Regions from separate parts of the Homo sapiens genome. Here all the other regions are linked to region 3. The links come from fine-mapping of genetic effects on gene expression. A gene starts in region 3. Each other region holds a variant in brackets. All regions are shown on one strand. Distances are between the middles of the regions.

What was found. PIP is the estimated chance that this variant, and not a neighbour inherited with it, causes the effect. A credible set is the group of variants that fine-mapping cannot tell apart.
Region 1: its variant is the best candidate, but not a certain one, in a credible set for the expression of DBNDD1 in prefrontal cortex (ROSMAP, PIP 0.80).
Region 2: its variant is the best candidate, but not a certain one, in a credible set for the expression of DBNDD1 in lung (TOPMed, PIP 0.55).

The regions. Positions count from the first base shown.
Region 1 is chr16:89,981,330-89,984,083 of GRCh38, forward strand. It overlaps the pseudogene AFG3L1P. Among named protein-coding and RNA genes, the nearest start is that of SNORA119, 29 kb to the left of the region's middle. The variant T/TTTAA (reference allele first, on the strand shown) is at 1,408.
Region 2 is chr16:90,045,244-90,047,997 of GRCh38, forward strand. It overlaps the pseudogene URAHP. Among named protein-coding and RNA genes, the nearest start is that of GAS8-AS1, 17 kb to the left of the region's middle. RefSeq lists an enhancer at 1,180-1,693. The variant C/A (reference allele first, on the strand shown) is at 1,456.
Region 3 is chr16:90,017,908-90,020,661 of GRCh38, forward strand. DBNDD1 (dysbindin domain containing 1) reads right to left here and starts at 1,549. Exons shown (of 4, transcript NM_001042610.3): 1 at 1,404-1,549. The coding sequence starts at 1,434. It also overlaps a transcript of DRC4 not described here. RefSeq lists silencers at 1,668-1,807, 2,554-2,754.

The DNA.
Region 1 (2,754 bases), 37 kb before region 3:
CTCCTGGCTAATTTTTTTTTAAATTTTTTGTGGACATGGGGTCACCCACCGTTGCCCAGGCTGGTCTCGAACTCCTGGGCTCAAGCAGTCCTCTCACCTTGGCCTCCTTTAGTGCTGGGACTACAGAGCTGAGTCACCACGCCTGGCCTCTGTCTGGATTTTAACAGACCCCCATAAGAGAGAACCCTAGCAACAGTGGCTCAAACACAGCGCTCTCTGTGGACTTTCTGCTTCTCCTGAGGCATCTGCTGAGCTGCGGCTTTCAGTGTGTGTCATACACCACGTAAAGATCTTTCCTCATGAGAGGAACTGAGGCTACATTGTGTACGGTCGGTGGGGGGGGGTTGCAAAACTTTCCTAATAACATCTGAAAAAGGAAATAGCTATTTTCATAAAGAAACTACCTTCATTTAACTGGAAAATGTGTTTTCTTTTTTCCACAGGGGGGACTTCCCCTGGGATGACGAGGATTTCCGCAGTCTGGCCCTTTTGGGGGCAGGCGTTGCCATGGGATTTTTCTACCTCTATTTTCGAGATCCTGGAAGAGAAATCACGTGGAAGCACTTTGTACAGTATTACCTGGCCAGAGGTCTGGTGAGAGGAATTTATAGTTTACCTACCTGGGAAGGAGGCCGCTGTAGTGGTGCACGTGGTCTGCGATGCCCTTAAGAAGCTGTGAGCTCTGAGGCCTGGGTTGAAAACCCGTTGTGTGGTAGATGTCCTGGGCAGTCCCACCCTCAGGCCATAGATGAGACACAGGTTTACTTTTCCCAGTAGCCAGCCCAACAGAAGGTTAGGAAGCTCATTTTTTAGATGAGACACAGTTTTACTTTCCCCAACAGAAGGTTAATAAGCCCATTTTCTTGCAAGGTGGAAGCTTCCTTAACATCTTGGCTTTTTGTTTTTAGCTTCAGCTTCTGTGAGTAAGTTCTGATTGTCTGATTGTGTCTGTTTATCATCAAGTATCAATTACATACCTAATGCAGATCTTTTGTTTCCCCTAGTGTACCCGTGTCCCCTCCTGCACCCCTGTCCTTTGCTGGCTGACCCTGGACAGCGGCTGGGGCTTTGTGTCTGTGCACAGGGGCATGTGGCACCAGCAAGCCTCCGCCTGTCCTTCACTGGGCCTGGTCTGTCGGGTTGCTGAAGGCCGGTGAAGCACTGCTCAGGGTTTAGTAACCAGCAAGCCTCCGCCTGTCCTTCACTGGGCCTGGTCTGTCGGGTTGCTGAAGGCTGGTGAAGCACTGCTCAGGGTTTAGTATAAAGTTACATGAGAGCAGGTGCCGTGCTTCTCAGTTGCCCTCAGAAGGACGTTTGTTAACTGATACAGTGTTAAGATCTGAACTTCTTTCTGTAGGAAAGTCCTGTTTTCCCACCAGGGTTTGTGGCTAAGGCCTTTTTTTTTTT[T/TTTAA]TTAATTAATTAATTAATTAATTTTTTTGAGACAGGGTCTTGCTCTGTCACCCAGGCTGGAGTGCAGTGGTGTGAAGTCTTGACCTTCTGGTTCCAAGCCAGCCTCCCACCTCAGCCTTCTGAGTATCTGGGACTGTAAAAAATGTAATTTTTTTTTTCCGACATGGAGTCTCGCTGTGTCGCCCTGGCTGGAGTACAGTGGCACGATCTGTATTCACTGCAACCTCCACCTCCCTGGTTCAAGTGATTCTCCTGCCTCAGCCTCCTGAGTAGCTGGGATTACAGGTTCTGGCCACTACACCTCCATGGGAGGTGGAGGTTGCTAGTTTTTTGTATTTTAGTAGAGACAGGGTTTCACTGTATTGCCCAGGCTGGTCTCGAATTCCTGAGCTCAGGCAATCCTCCCACCTTGGCCTCCCAAAGTGCCAGGATTACAGGCGTGAGCCACTGTGCCCAGCCCGCACTTTTTTTTTTAGAGACAGTGTCTCCTTATGTTGCCCAGGCTAGTCTCAGACTCCTGGGCTCAAGTGATGCTCCCACTTTGTCCTCCTGAAGTGCTATGATTACAGTTGTGAACCACCACCCAAGGCCTTTTTGTCTGGCCACAGGGCACACACCTGTCTTCAGAGAGGTCCCTGATGACTCCTTATGGGAGGAAGGGAGAGCTGCTGCAGCCCATCTCTGCTGTTGGTCTTCACTCACAGCTGCTGCTGTGAGGAGCAAGATGCCTGCTGGTGTGTGGGTTCTGGACAGATCCCAGAGCTTCTGTGAGGTCCTCTCCAGGTATCTGACACGCTGACCGTGATGCGGTTGCGTTATGGTCAAGAGGCCCCTGTCATAAACACGTTCGTGTTGGTCACATGACCCTGAGTAGTCAAGAAAAGTAGGGTTATAGTGGTTTCAGATTCTGTGGAGAGGAGAAAGCAACGCTGTTGTCATGATACCTAAGGAAATGGCCGCACTCTCAAGTTGTGTTTTTGCTGCGCACCGGCTGTCGGGCTGTGTTCGCCGCTGGGTGGCTTCGTGGAGGCCTTTGGGGTTGCATTTTCATTCTTGGTGGCACCATTTTCTTGTGGTATCTGCAGCTGTGTGGGCGAAATGTTTCTGGATGAGTTCCGGAAGACTTTGCTGTATTGTCAGTCTGAGACCTCTATGCCTTTTAGATTTTTTTTTTCAGATGGAGTCTCACTCTGTTGCCCAGGTTGGAGTGCAGTGTACAGTCTTGGCTCATTGCCACTTCCGCCTCCCGGGGTCAAGCAGTTCTCCCTGCCTCAGCCGCTTGAGTAGCTGGGATTACCGGGACGCCCCACCACATCTGGCTAATATTTGTATTTTTAGTAGAGACAG
Region 2 (2,754 bases), 27 kb after region 3:
CTGCACTCCAGCCTGGGCGACAGAGCGAGACTCCATCTCAAAAAAAAAAAAAAAAAAAAAAAAAAAGTGTGTGGCTTTCTGGGTCAATAACTACCAAACCTTCACCCACAGAGTGGGCCTGTCCAACTCCACGGAGCGTCTGTGTTGTGTGCCCTGGTCCCTTATCAGGGTTCTGAATAACCGTGGCTTTGCCCATAGTCACTTCTGGAAAACCTCCCATCATTCTTGCCAGCTGGTCTTTAAAGTGTGCGCTTCTGCTGTGATTAGAAAGAGCAGGCCCGAACAAGGTGGCTCACACCAGTAATCCCAGCACTTTGGGAGGCCAAGGTGGGTGGATCACGAGGTCAGGAGTTCAAGATCAGTCTGGCCAAGATGGTGAAACCCTGTCTCTACTAAAAATACAAAAATTAGCCGGGGGTGGTGGCAGGTGCTTGTAATCCCAGCTACTCGAGAGGCTGAGGCCAAGAATTGCTTGAACTGGGTAGGTGGAGGCTGCAGTGAGCCAAGATCGTGCCACTGCACTCCATCCTGGGCAACAGAGAGACTCCATCTCAAAAAAGAAAAAGAGCATAGCACGCTGGGTGTGGTGGCTCACGCCTGTAATCCCAGCACTTTGGGAGGTCGAGGTGGGTGGATCACCTGAGGTCGGGAGTTTGAGACCAGCCTGACCAACGTAGAGAAACCCCGTCTGTACTACAAATACAAAATTAGCTGGCGTGGTGGTGCATGCCTGTAATCCCAGCTACTAGGGAGGCTGAGGCAGGAGAATCGCTTGAACCCAGGAGGCGGAGGTTGCGGTGAGCTGATGCCACGCCATTGTACTCTAGCCTGGGCAAGAAGAGTGAAACTCTGTCTCAACAACAACAACAACAACAAACATAGCGTGTGTGCATGAGGGTAATGAGTCTCTGTGACCCTGCACGGGACGCCCAGCCCACACAGTGCTGTCCTAATTGCTCAGGTGGGACCTGGACCCCTCGTGTCTCAGCTTTTGTGAAGGACCACACGACTGTAGGAGCGGCAGGGTCAGACTCTCTCTGATCCTATGGGCCCAGCCCTGTCCTTCTGGCTGGAAGGGAGGGGGCCTGCCTCTTACGCAGGGGCCATGAGGCCTGGGTGGGTGACATCTGCCTCTGGAAGTGCCGCGCAGAGCCTGTGCCTGGGGCAGTGGGCAAGACCCCATGGAGGCTGAGGGACACACTGCCCCTCAGGCCTGGCTGGGAATCCCAGCACGCACCTGGGCTTGCTACCTCAGTCTTCCCATGTGTAGAAGGGTGAATTATGGTGCTGGCCCACGGGGTGTATGGAGAATGAAAAGAGTGGAAATAATGTCCAGCGTACTGCCTGGCACAAGGTTACCCGTGATCTCAGTGAGCTCTTCGATGCCACCTCAGGCCTCACCTCACCACCACCCCCCGCCCTCGCCCTGGCACAGCTGCCAGGGAGAGGCAGAAA[C/A]TCACTCCCACCCCATCAGGGTCACAGGGGCCTGAGGCTGGAGGGAGGGAGGAAAGAGCTCCTCTCCTCATCCCTGTATTTTCAGAGGAGGAAACGGGCTGAGAGAAGCAGAAGAGAGAGCCCCTAACCTCACTCCCAACCCGGGCTGAGAGGAGGGTCGGCAGCGGTGAGCTCCGCCCTCCAGCCTCACTGCCTGGCCCCTTAGTCCCCGCCATCTGTCTCAGGGCGGCACTCCCCCTCCCAGGGCCTCTCTCCTACCTTGTCCTCAGCTCCGCCCACTGCTGGCCGTGGTCCTCCAGCCAGCACAAGCGGAGGCAGAGGCCTCTGGCTGGGAGCCCTGAGGCGGTGTCCAGCACGTGGGTGGTCAGTAGGTTGTCCGGAGGCTCCGTGCTGCTGCCCTGGGCCAGGAGAAGGAGGCCAGGGTGAGCCTCTGGAGCCCTGTGCCCGCCTACCCACACCAATCCTGCGTCCACACCAGCTGTGGGGCTTAAACAGCCCTCTGGACAGAGTTCTCCGAGCTGCCCAGGGGACAGGGGGCAAGGGTGACCGGAAGTGCCCAGGCAGCTGATGAGGCACCAAACGTAAACAGCGCAGCCTGTGCCTGCCGACCCTCCCCCACCAATCCCTGTGGCTCCCCTGCCCCACTGGGGACACCCACTGTCCCGCCCACGGCCCCACGAAATGGCCATTTCCCCCCAGGCCCTCAGTTCCAGCCCCTGGGGTGGTTCTCCCGGAACTGGGCTCTCCTCCGCGCCCCGGTTCCTGGGCCCTCGACGCTCAGCCCCACGCAAGCAGCTGAGGGGACAGGAGCCCTGCAGGTCCAGGCCTGGCCCCCTAACCTCCTGGGGGCCTAGGTGTCGCTGGAGCCTCAGCAGCCGCGGGACGGCCCGGGGGCTCATCCTGCCCTGCCGGACTGCGACGCCCGCGGGCAAAGGGAAGGGCGGGGCCGGTCACCCCGCCCCGGACCACCTCGTGCCCACCAGGAGGGCCCCAGCGGGGCTTTGCCCAGGAAGGTGCGCTGGTGGCGAATCAGGGCGCACAGACCTGGGGCCCAGAAGCGGAGTCGCGAGGACCTGCTGGGGGGTGGTGGGGGCGGGGACGGGGGCGGGGCCGCGGTGAGAAGGGGCGGGACCGCGGTGAGAGGGGGCGGGGGGCGGGGCCGCGGTGAGATGGGGCGGGGCCGCGGTGAGGGGGCGGGGCCGCGGTGAGAGGGGGCGGGACCGCGGTGAGAGGGGGCGGGACCGCGGTGAGAGGGGGCGGGACCGCGGTGAGAGGGGGCGGGACCGCGGTGAGAGGGAG
Region 3 (2,754 bases):
AGGTGTCTGAAGCCCCCAGCCAGTGACTGATGGGCTCAGAAACTGAACCTGCTTTCTCTGCCTTTTAAGCTGCTGGGAAGTCCTCCTTTTTTCCCAAAGGAGGAGGGAAAACATATTAACCTCCACTCCCAAATGCCTTGGGCTCCCACAGCCCTGCAGGGGAAGCAGAACTGTCTCCACTGACAGAAATGGAAATTGAGGCTCACAGGGGCCTGACTGCCCACAGTTCACAGCTGGAAACAGCTCGGAGACCCCCAAGCCCTCACTCCCAACCTCCAGGCTTCCTATGTCCACAAAGCTGCTACTGGGAATACCCAGGAGCCTGGGACTATCAGTGTTAAGAAAGAGCTCTGGTCCCTCCCACAAATGACAAATCAAAACCCAAACCCACCAGCCCTGGGGCATTTGTCCCTATACCTTGGACTGCAGATACACAGGGTGGGTGGACCTGCTCCTCCCGGGGACAGCCCTTCGGGCTCCAGAGGATGCCACTGTGTGCGGCTGGGGGACTGAGAGGTTCCCATGTAGTTCCAGAGCGGCAGGCTGGCCTGCCTGTGCCCTCAGGCACCTGCTGGCTCCCTGGAATGGGAGCTCTAGGAAACCAGGAGGTGGTGGGCTTGGCTGGGCAGGTGGAGGAGTCTGCAGTTTGCATCCAAGTTCCTACCTAGGCAAATGGAACCCCGAAAGCCCTTTTGGAAAAGTCTCTGATCGGGAAGGGGGGAGGTTCTGAGAGCTTTCTTCCCGTTACCGACTCCAAGGTCCTGCAGTAGGGCCTCCACCATCAGGGCAGGGAGCGCTCCACGCGCACCTACCCTCCCCGATGAGCGTGCGCCTGGGCCACTCCCGGACCAGCCACCCTTGCAGCTCTGGAGTCCCCGGCAGGCCGCGCCCGTGCATGCCCCACATCCCCAAGACCCATCTCAGCCCCTCGCCCCTGGCAGGATCCCTGCCCGCGAGTCTACGGCCCTCGCCCCCCGGGACTCGCGGCTGGGCGAACAAAGCGGACGCGCTTGCAAGCGGCCAGCGTCGCCCTCACGCCCCACCGACAGGGACCCCAAACTCCAGCCCCGGAACCCCCCTCCCCCGCTCCCCGGGTCACCGGCTGGCTTGGCTGGGAGGGGGCTCAGGACGAAACTCCGGGCCACCCACCAAGGAGCGTGCCGGGCACGGCTTCCCGGGCCGGGAGCGCAGAGAACAAGGGGGCGGAGACTCGGTCCGTGTGCCCCCAGCCCCGCGCGGGGACCGCGCCCGGGAGGTGCCCCTGGCCCGCCGGACGACCCCGAGCTGCCAAAGGGGTCTTCGCGACTCCCGGGAGCGGCGAAGGGTGAGCCCTGGGGGGAGGGGCTGCGGCTCGCTGCGGGGAAGCGCTGCGCGGGGGTCTCGGGGGCTGGGGCTGAACTCACCTCCGGTGCCGGCGCCCTCCGGGGGCTCCATGCGGCCGGTGCGGTCTGGGAGGGGCACGGGCGACGGCGGCGTCGCCTGGCCCGGGCGCCCCAACAGCTGCGGCAGCGACTCGGCCCCGGCTCCGGGCGCAGCGCATCGGGGCAGCAACCGGGGGGCCGCGGCGGCAGGGAGGAGCCCGCGGGGCGGGGCGGGGCGCGCAGCTGCTCCCGGGCCCCGGCCCCCTCCCGGCGCCCCCCCAGCCGCAGGACAGGTGCGGCCCCGCCCCGGCCCGCGCGCGCCCCCTGCTGGCCCCTGGCCCAGCGGACCCCTCCCCCGCCGACCCTTCCCTCGCGGGCCGCGCCCCGCCGCGGACACCACCGGGACCTGGCTGCGCCCTCCCGACCCCGGCCGGGCGTCCGGGGCTCCTGCGCACTCACTTGGCGGCCGCGCCCGCTGGCGTCCTCTTGTTCTCTTCCAGGTACTTGCGTGTGGGGCGCCGACTGTGTGCGGGCGCCCCTCGGGGCTGGCGAGGGGCACAGGAGGGGCCTGACTCGCGCTGGGTAATGACAGACTCACAGAGCGCCCTGGATGGCGCGAATTAACGCGGGGGGCGGGTGGGGGCGAGGGCGTGTGCTTGGGAGGCTGGAAGGGGCGGGATGGGGGATGGGAGGTAAGGAGAGGGCGGCGGGCCCGGGCTGCAGAGAGCGCCAAGGCAGTTTCGATGAAACTGACCCCCATGTCCCTATCGCCCAGATTCAGCGATTGCCAGCTCCTGGCCTGGGCCACTGCTTCTCTGTCCTCATTCACTTCCCTCCACTGCTGGGTCATTTTGAAGCAAATTATATACACATTAGATCATTGCATTTGTAAGTACTTCAATATTTATCTCTCAAAGAAAGTCCGTTTGCAGGAGCATTGACTCATGCCTGTAATCCCAGCCCTTTGGGAGGCTGAGGTGGGAGCACAGCTTGAGCTCAGGAGTCCAAGGCTGCCGTGAGCTATGATTGTATGTCTCAAAAAAAAAAAAGAAAAGAAAAGAAAAGAAAAAGTCTAGTCTTCATAAACACTCTTGTTAACCCAGCATCCAGGCCTTCACTGAGTTGATGCCGTGGCCTGAGGCGGTTTACCTGGTGGATAGTGGGTGGCAGGAAGCATCAGACATCAGACAGAGGGCAGTCGGTTTGTTTGTATTAACATTTGCTCTGGGATTTTGCAGGAAACTCAGATGCCATTTATCTGGGTTTCTGAGCTGCACAGCTTGACACTGAATGAAAGTATCTTAAGCCACATATGTGAAGAAAAGGCTCTTTTCTAAAAATCTGAACTCGAATTCAATATGAAAAGAACAGGTCGCAGTGGGCCCTGTCGGGA